Regions from separate parts of the Homo sapiens genome. Here all the other regions are linked to region 1. Evidence: fine-mapped expression QTL. A gene starts in region 1. Each other region holds a variant in brackets. All regions are shown on one strand. Distances are between the middles of the regions.

Region 1 (2,759 bases):
CCTGTGGTCCTTCTCAATTTGATACTGGAGATGATCAGGAAAGCCTCAGCTTCTCCCAGAATGAATTGAGAGGACCTTCCTTCCACTATAGCGACCAAGATCTCCACCTAAGGGGCGCTCACTGGAAGTTTGCTGAAATCCCAAATCAGCATGCTCCTGATTTCAGAAGCTGCCATCCACCTTTGCACTTCAACACAAAATCCACCACATCCTAGGCTCCAGCCCTGGAACACCAAATGAAGCCACACAAGTTCTGCACACCAAGACCTCTTCAATGGAAGGAAAATGACCACTGAGTTTGGTCCACCCTTTTCCCACCTCCCGTACCAAATCCCAAATCATCAAAACAGGCCCAACTCTGCATCTTACAGCCAGGGAAACTGGGGACCACCAGGCCAGGGCCCTCCATCACCAATGTCCCCCCCAGAACTGGCCAGGCTCAGTCACCACTCAGTGGACCCCAGCCCTCAGCAAGCACTCTTCCCCAACAGCCTTTACACACATTCTCTCTCTCTCTCTCTCTCTTACTTTTTCTTGGATAATTTCTTTAGCAAGGTACTTCAAAACAAGCTTTTAGTTTAATCTATTTCCATTTTGTGAGCAATGGTTCTTCCTAGAGTCCTGATTTCTTGCCGAAGAAGGCATTAGGAGAGGATGGCTCAGAGAGTCGCCCCGCTTCCCCTCTCAGCCAGTTCCAGGACACACACAGGCGTCCACACACTGAGGGGCCCTGGGAGGACCAGCTACCCAGTCCGGAGTCCACCCGCCCACGCCCCTGTGAGTGGTGGGCAGGCACTCAATGCCAGGACAGAGAGCTCACTACCTTACAGACAGCCCACCCTGGGGGATAAGGGGTAAAGAGCCAGACCTGGTCCACCTCTTCTCGCCCACCCTGAGGCGACCCCAGAACCGGGGCGTGGGGGGACATCACAACTAGAAGGACCGGGGGCTGCCGGACCCTGCCGTCAGAAGACCCCGGAGGGGGCCCTGTGCCTCCCTTGCCCGCCAGAGTCCTTCGCCTTCAGCTTCTCCCGGGTGGAACCCTCCCGCAGAGCCTGGGAATCCCGCCAGGGTCACTGTGCGCCCCTCCCGAGCTCCGGGGCAAGGGAAGGACCGCGGCGCAGGTGCGGGAAGGCGCGGGTCCACCCGGGTCCGGTGAACCCCGAGGAGTGGGGGCGCCCCCGGTGCGGGCCGTCGCCCCCTTACCGCAGAGCAGCAGCAGCAACGGGAGAAGTTGCGGGCGCCGCAGCGCTCCAGTCTCCATGGCTGGCCGGCCGCAGCTGGGTCACGCTCGGTCCCGCTGGGGGCGCGGCTGGGGGACGCCCGGTTGGGGTTGGGGTGGGGCGGGGCCTCAGGGGGTCCGCCCTCAGGCCGCACCCCCAGACCACGCCTGCGGCCGTGCCCCGTTGCCTCCAGATGTGGGGTGCAGTCCCTGCAGGCGCGCCGGGTGGGAGGGATGGGGGCGGCTGGAGTCTCAGCGGGGTGAGAGGGGGGCGAGGGCAGGGTTTCGAGCTGGGGACAAGCTGGGGTAAGGTGGGGTGCCGGCTGATGGGCTCTGAGGGCGGGGCTGGGGTGCTGAGCTGCAAAGGAGCTTTTTGGGAGCAGATTGTAGGGGCAGACTGGGAGGTGAGCTGGGGTGAGCGTGGGGGCCGGCTGACGGTGGGCTGGGATGCAGGCTGGAGAGACTTGGGGAACTTCCGTCCAGGCTCAGGGGCAGAGGGTGGGGGTAGACCGGGGAGGGAGCTGAGGTGAGGATGAAGCGCTGGCTGATGATGGCCTAGAGGAGTCTGGGGGTAGACTGGAGGAAGGTGGACCTGGGAGTGGGCTAGGTGTGCCCTGGCCGAAAGTAGACCAGAGTCCAGAGCTGCCCCCAGGCAGGGAGGGGAACTTTGAGCAGAGATACATCTAGGAGCCAGGTCTCCAAAGGTCAGGAAAGTGCATAAAAGAGGTTGGGGGGTGTGTGTGTGTGCGTCTGTGTGTGTGCGTGTGTGTGTTGTTCATGGAGTACGTGTGTGTGATGTGCATGTGGGGTGTGTGTAGATGCATGTGTGTGCATGGAGTGTGTGATGTATGGTGTGTGTGTGGCATGTGTGTGTTTGAGTCTGAGACAAGGTGTGTTTGTGAGTGTATGCTTGGGAAACAGTGTGTATGAGAGAGACTGGAGGGTGTGGCAACTACACACACAGAGACGTATCACACACCAAGAACCAAGCCACAAGCAAACCAAGGGACAGGAGAGTATCTGGCACCACCAAAGACCTGGCCTTGAAGAGTGTCAGGGTCCCTGAGGCGAAGGAGGGCCTCAGTTTCTCCAGCCACAGGTCACTTGGCCAGATGGGTCACCTCTGTCACCCTCAGCCCCTAGCACAGGCCCTGGCTCCAGTGGACACTTAATGGTGTCTTAAGAATTGTCACTGGTCAGGACTTCCGAGAGCCAGCTAGAGGCACCTCTCTGCCCTCCAGGGCCCACCCACCACCCCTGGGGGCACATGCTGGTCTGAGGTTGGGGCACAGGCCCAGGCTCCTACATGGATGGGCCCTCCACTCCTCTGAGCCGTAGGTACTGCTACCTTCCCAGGAGCTGAGCTGAACTTCTCCTGGCTTAGAAAGACCCACTTTATTTAACAAGACCCTTATTCGGGAGAAGAACTTTCTGTGCTTTTTTACTGAAGAAATTCTGATTACAGCCAGAATTAATTCAAAGGAGTCAAAACTAATTAAAATTGATCATTTGTCCTGCCTTCTGCCTGAGGGGTGGG
Region 2 (2,759 bases), 58 kb before region 1:
CCTCTGCCACGAGAGGAGGGTGCGCCCATTTCTGCTGTGGTTTTCTAGGATGCCAACAGCTCCTCCTTTGCTCCCTCCACAGGGAACCCTCACTGAAAGGCACTTGATCACTCCTTCCTGGGGTTCGGGCGTGAGCCCAGATCCCCTCTCTGAGCCTGGAAGCGCTTGCTGGCGTAGCTTAGAGGCTCCCAGGTGTTGCTCATCATGAGCCAGGTGTGAAGGAGTGTGCTGAGCCCTCCAAGGGCTGTGAGATGCTGGCCAGATGCTGGAGGGGCAGAGAGAAGCTGAGTTTCCATCGTGCTCACACACGATGGAATGACCAGACTTTTTGGCTCCCGGGAACTCTGTGGCTCAGACCCTTTTAAAGCTGCCAGGAAAGAGCCCTCAGTGCCCGGCTCCCTGGCACCAAGCACTTCCCACCGAGGAGCCAAGGATGCAGTCATTTGGGGTGGTGGGTGTGTGGGCACGATGGAAACTCAGCCTCTCTCTGCCCCACTGCCCTGCATCCCCTGCAGTGGGATCCCTGCCTCACCCTCAGAGGCCCACTGAGGCAGGTCCTCACTTTTCCGGTCACTCTCAGATAACAAAAGTCACACTGGTCCTAAACAGTCCATAGTCATGAAAATGGCCGGTCCATCAAAATAACCAAAACGCCCTGAGTGGCCCTGTGTGGGGACCACCTGCAGCGAGAAGGCTGGCGCTCAGCTTCCTTCTTCCTTCCAGGAGCCGCCAGCTTCTCCAGGCTGCAGCCAGCAGGCATGCAGGTGGAGGGTGTGGGACAGGCACTGCCTTGCTCTCCTCTGGCCAGGCAGTGCCTGAAGCAAGTGAGGATGCTCCCCAGGTCCTCCCTGAGCACAGCGTCCTCAAACAGCAGGAGGAGCTCATCAGGCTCTCCGTGAGTGTGAGAGAGCGAGGAGCACCACTGGCTCTGACCCTCTGCTGTGCATCCAGTCCCTCACCTCCCTTGGCAAAACTGACAGGGACACATTTCCATTCCCGTGTCCTGTGCTGTAGGATAGTGCTGTGGACTGAAGAATGTCCCCCAAAATTCTGGCATTGAAGCCCTAACCCCTAGTGTGATTGTATTGGAGATAGAGCTTTCAGGAGCTAAGTAAGGTTAAATTACGAGGTCATAAGGGCAGAGTGCTAATCTGATAGAATAAGTGCCCTTATCAGAAGAGAAAGAGGAAGATCGCGCACTCTCTCTCTCTCTCTCCACCCCCTTCTCTCTCTCCCTCCCTCCCCTTCTTTCTCTCTCTCCCTCTTCCCTCCCCGCCCATGTGAAAACACACGGAGAAGGCAGCCTGAGCTAACACAGATGGCAAAGCACGTGGAGTGCGCCTGGGGTGGCCCTGCCAGCAGATGTGCATCAGCTATCAAGGAGATGGTTTTCTAAGTGGAATTAGCATCCCCTACTCCCAGGCAGGCTTCAGCAATAGCACTGGGAGCGACACACACAGTGCTCCCTGTGTGCTGGCATCACCA[T/C]GTTCACCCTCCCAAAGGCTCCTGATGTGGATGAGGGAGCCCAGCCCCCACCTCCCAGGAAGCCAGAGAAACAGAAGTGAACCCAAGTTGGTGCTGAAGCAGGTGGTTTGGACCGCTCACTGAGCCACCTCCTGGTTTGCTGAGTACTGTCACAGACATATCATTTCACACTCAGTTCAGCAGCTTTCAGAGACAAATCGTTGTTGAGCTACTTTTGCAACCCACATGCTGCGTGAATGCTGAGGAGCCAAGGATGTAGGAAGCAGACACATCCCCTGCCCTCCTGGGCTCAGTCCACTACAGAAGATAAGACCCCATCAAACCATCACACGAGCACATGTAAACCTGCAATTGTATAAACCACAAATTCATACCAACCTTCGCAAAATTCCAGCAGGGATTTGTGAAGAATTTGAACAATCTTTTTCTGTAGTTGATATGGGGCAAGAAAGATCTGCAGAGAGCTCACCACACTTTTGAAAAGGAAGAGCAGGGAGGACTTACTCCTCCAGGCACTCAACCGCTTCAACCCTTTAGTGACAGCAGCTTCTCCGGGGTTCAGGACAGACAAGGAGAAGACCCAGGTGGATGGGGAGCTTGGAGTAAGACAGAGACACCGTGAGCAGAGGAGAGAGGACAGCTCCAGAGGTGGCACTGGGGAAATCACTCCTGAGACAAGCAAAGCCTGACTCTATACATGACACCACTTACAGAGGTGGATGTCATACGAATTCAAGACTGAAAATGGAGAGGTACAATTACAAAACCGAGAAAAAAAATCGAATCTCAGGACCCCAAACTCACTATGCCAAAAGGAGAGTTAAGCTTGGGATCTGAGTCACACGATACAGTCTTCCTTTTGTTCCCAAACAGATCGCTGTAATTTCACAACCCTGTGTCATAGCCTCATCCATAAGCCAGGTTCCCACCAGATGGAAGGCCACATATCTCCCCAGGTGGCCTCCCTCACAAATTGCTCACAAGTAAATTCCTCGTGAACCCCTCAGTCTTTCGGGATATATGCCCCTTTCCTGTAAATTAGCCCTAAAGCTGAATTCTGTTGAATCTCACCCTGACAATATCAGTTACCAGCTTATCTTCACAGGTGCGAAGAAAGACGAGAAATCATCCCTCTACCTACCCTGAGAGGAAGGCATAATTGACTTTTTCCTCTACTCCCTCCTTTCATGTGTGAAATGTGGATTTACTGAGCACTAATGGGAGCCTCACAAGAAATAACCATTTGCCTCACTTCTACCCTCCCTCCATTTTTT
Region 3 (2,759 bases), 54 kb before region 1:
TTTCTCAGCGTAGGAAGGGGGATTTTCCAGTCTGCATATGGAGGAATGGAACATTCTAGAAGCCCAGCAAGAAAAGCAGCTGGAGCTCACCTTTCACAGTCTCACTTATTCACCTTCCACCCCAGCAGGTCTCCTGTAGGGTGGGACAAGGCTCAGGGACTTAACCAGCCCACAGCCCACCTGGGCCAGCGTCCTCACTTCCCTCCAGTTCTGAGCCTCTCTGGGGTCTGGGGCCCCATGGCTTGCTCCCCACTGGCCCACCCAGGTTTGTAGGTCTCACCTTCCCTCACTCTGCAAAGTTCAGCCACTTTCTGTCTCCCAAAATCTTGCTGACATCTCTCCTTGGCTGTCATTCCCTTTTTTATTCTCTTTGTCCTTGTATGTTCCTTCTCTGTTCATTGAGTGGAATTTGGGGAAATGAATGTTACTCCACCACACTTAACAAAATTCCCATCCATGAGTTTCTACCACCCGCCTGGGGTTCTCTCCCAACTGGGGAAGAAAGGGGAGAAGGACTGGGGTCATACAGGGCAATCTGCCAGAATCTGCCCATGTCTGCACCCTCTGTTCCTATTTCCCCTTCTTCGTATCATGCCCTGTGTCCTCAGACCTCCAAGCTCCACACAAAATGGGAGGTGTGAAATTTCTACCTCCCTGTCCTAGCACAATGGAGCCTGGCCTGCTAGACTCTTGCCTCACTAGAAATCCTAGTCAGTCTCAAAACTCAAAGCCAAGCAATGGCATTTGTGTCCTACCCACCATCTGAGTGTTATTAAATCAGTAGGTGGGAGCCACAGGACTACATGATCTGGGGAGAAATAAAAATTCATTGGTTTAATGTTTTGAATGGCCACCAGTATACTTCATGCTACAGGGGGCATGTGAAACAGAAGACTTTGGGCCTATCAGCTTTTCTGGGGAGGTGAGGAGCTCAGAACGGGAGGATGAGATGTTAATTAGGCCAGAGGAGAAGGAAGGAGGAAACCAAATGAGCAAATGGCCCAAGACAGGTGACTTCTCAGCACTCCCACAGCAGCAGCCATTCCCATGCCAGTCCTCAGTCTGATGTGTCAGATCTCAGGGCTTCTACTCATTCCCAGGGCAGAAAGTATGGCCATCACATGAAGCAATGGTAGGCATCCAGGACAAATTTGAGGATTTTACATTCAAAATTCATGTCCTAGAATGGCTCCGCCTTGACTTGTAAACACCAATGTTTAAAAGTCACTACCCTCTCAGGCCCTCAGTCAATCCCCGGGCAGTGCCAAGCTTTCTCCTACATCCAGACATCAGAGCCACACAGAGTGAAGGCACCAGGTCAGACGATCATCTGAGCTTTCCCTCAAAGCTGCTGCCCACACAGCCCAAGCTGACCTTAGTGGGGATCACACAGCAGTTGCGTCATGAGTGGACACTTTTCAAATGAAAGCTCTTGGGAACATCTCAGGAGACAATGGAGGGAAACCCACCTTCTTCTAATGAGCTTCCTCTCTGTCAAGTCCTGCACGGTGCCAGGCATAGGTGGGGCTTCCAGGATAATATCCTTTAATTTTAGGGGAATCACATGTAGTGTGG[C/G]CCCCTGGGCAAGAACAGGAAATCCTGCTAGATATAACTTGGTGTGTTTTATAGCTCCTGCAACTGTTTGAGAGACCAATATCAAATTGAAGGTCTGGGAGCAACTACACCTAACAATGAGACTCTGTCCCAGAAACAACAGCTTCCACTCTGCAGTCCCAGACAAAAATCCTGTCATTTCTGGTAGCCACGCATTAACTCAAGCGCTCAAGAATGCAGTCACAAAATGTACCTAATGACTCCCACATCTAGCTCTTGGCCTAAATCTCTCACCTAAGCTTCAGATTTAGATGTGAACCCAACATACCTCAAACCTAATGTGTCTAGAACAGAACTCATACTGGTGGGAGGAGGTCAGGGAGACTTTACAGATGAGGAAATCTTTAAATTGGGCCTTGCAGCAGAGTAGGAGGCAGAGATGGGAAAGAGGATGGAGAGAAGGTGGGAACACATTTGAGAAAAATTTAGATGGTAGAATCAATAGGGTTTGAAGACTGATTGGATGTGGCATTGGGGGAGGGCTATTAGGGGAATTCAATAGGTTTCAGCAACACATTTTTAAATACTCATTTTTGAAATAGATAATACATGTACATGGTTTAATATTCAAGGACTACAAAAAGGCATATCATGAAGAGTGGGTATTCTTTCCACGCCCATACCCCAGGCATCTGTCCCCTCACTGAGTGGGTCTAGGAGGGGCCACGAAGCATAACGTCTCTGCACCTGGGTCTTTTCACCCGATAACACACAGGGAAGACTATCCCCACTCAACACGCATCAAATGGACCACATTGCATTTGTACTTAACTAGAATTCGGTTCCTGAACATTTAAGTTGCTCTCTAGCTTTTGCTGCAATAAATATCCTTACAGATATATATGTGCAAGTGTATCAGTAAGATGAATTTCTTCAAGTGAAATTGATGAGTCAAACGTATATGCATTTCCAGTGGTTTTTGTTTTTTGGTTTTGGATTTTGGGTTTTCTTGAGACAGCGTCTCACTCTGTTGCCCAGGCAACAGTGGCACGATCACAGCTCACTGCAGCTTCAACCTCCCAGGCTCAAGCCATCCTCCCACCTCAGCCTCCTGAGTAGCTGGGACTACAGGCATGTACCACCATGCCCAGCTAAATTTTTTTTGTAGAGTTGTGGTCTCCCTACATTGCCCAGGCTGGTCTCAA

Which allele goes with the higher level. Alleles are on the strand shown, and positions count from the first base shown. SD is a standard deviation of normalised expression in the study named. Not every link is listed here.
As copies of C replace G in region 3, the expression in nucleus accumbens of the gene that starts at base 1,302 in region 1 goes down (small effect, 0.25 SD a copy in GTEx).

The links.
Region 2: its variant is fine-mapped to the expression of RAMP3 in whole blood (INTERVAL, PIP above 0.99).
Region 3: its variant is fine-mapped to the expression of RAMP3 in nucleus accumbens (GTEx, PIP above 0.99). The same link has a PIP of 0.9 or more in lung.

The regions. Positions count from the first base shown.
Region 1 is chr7:45,156,334-45,159,092 of GRCh38, reverse strand. It overlaps RAMP3 (receptor activity modifying protein 3), which reads right to left and starts at 1,302. Exons shown (of 3, transcript NM_005856.3): 1 at 1,207-1,302. The coding sequence starts at 1,264.
Region 2 is chr7:45,214,493-45,217,251 of GRCh38, reverse strand. No RefSeq gene overlaps it. Among named protein-coding and RNA genes, the nearest start is that of RAMP3, 58 kb to the right of the region's middle. The variant T/C (reference allele first, on the strand shown) is at 1,486.
Region 3 is chr7:45,209,945-45,212,703 of GRCh38, reverse strand. No RefSeq gene overlaps it. Among named protein-coding and RNA genes, the nearest start is that of RAMP3, 54 kb to the right of the region's middle. The variant C/G (reference allele first, on the strand shown) is at 1,576.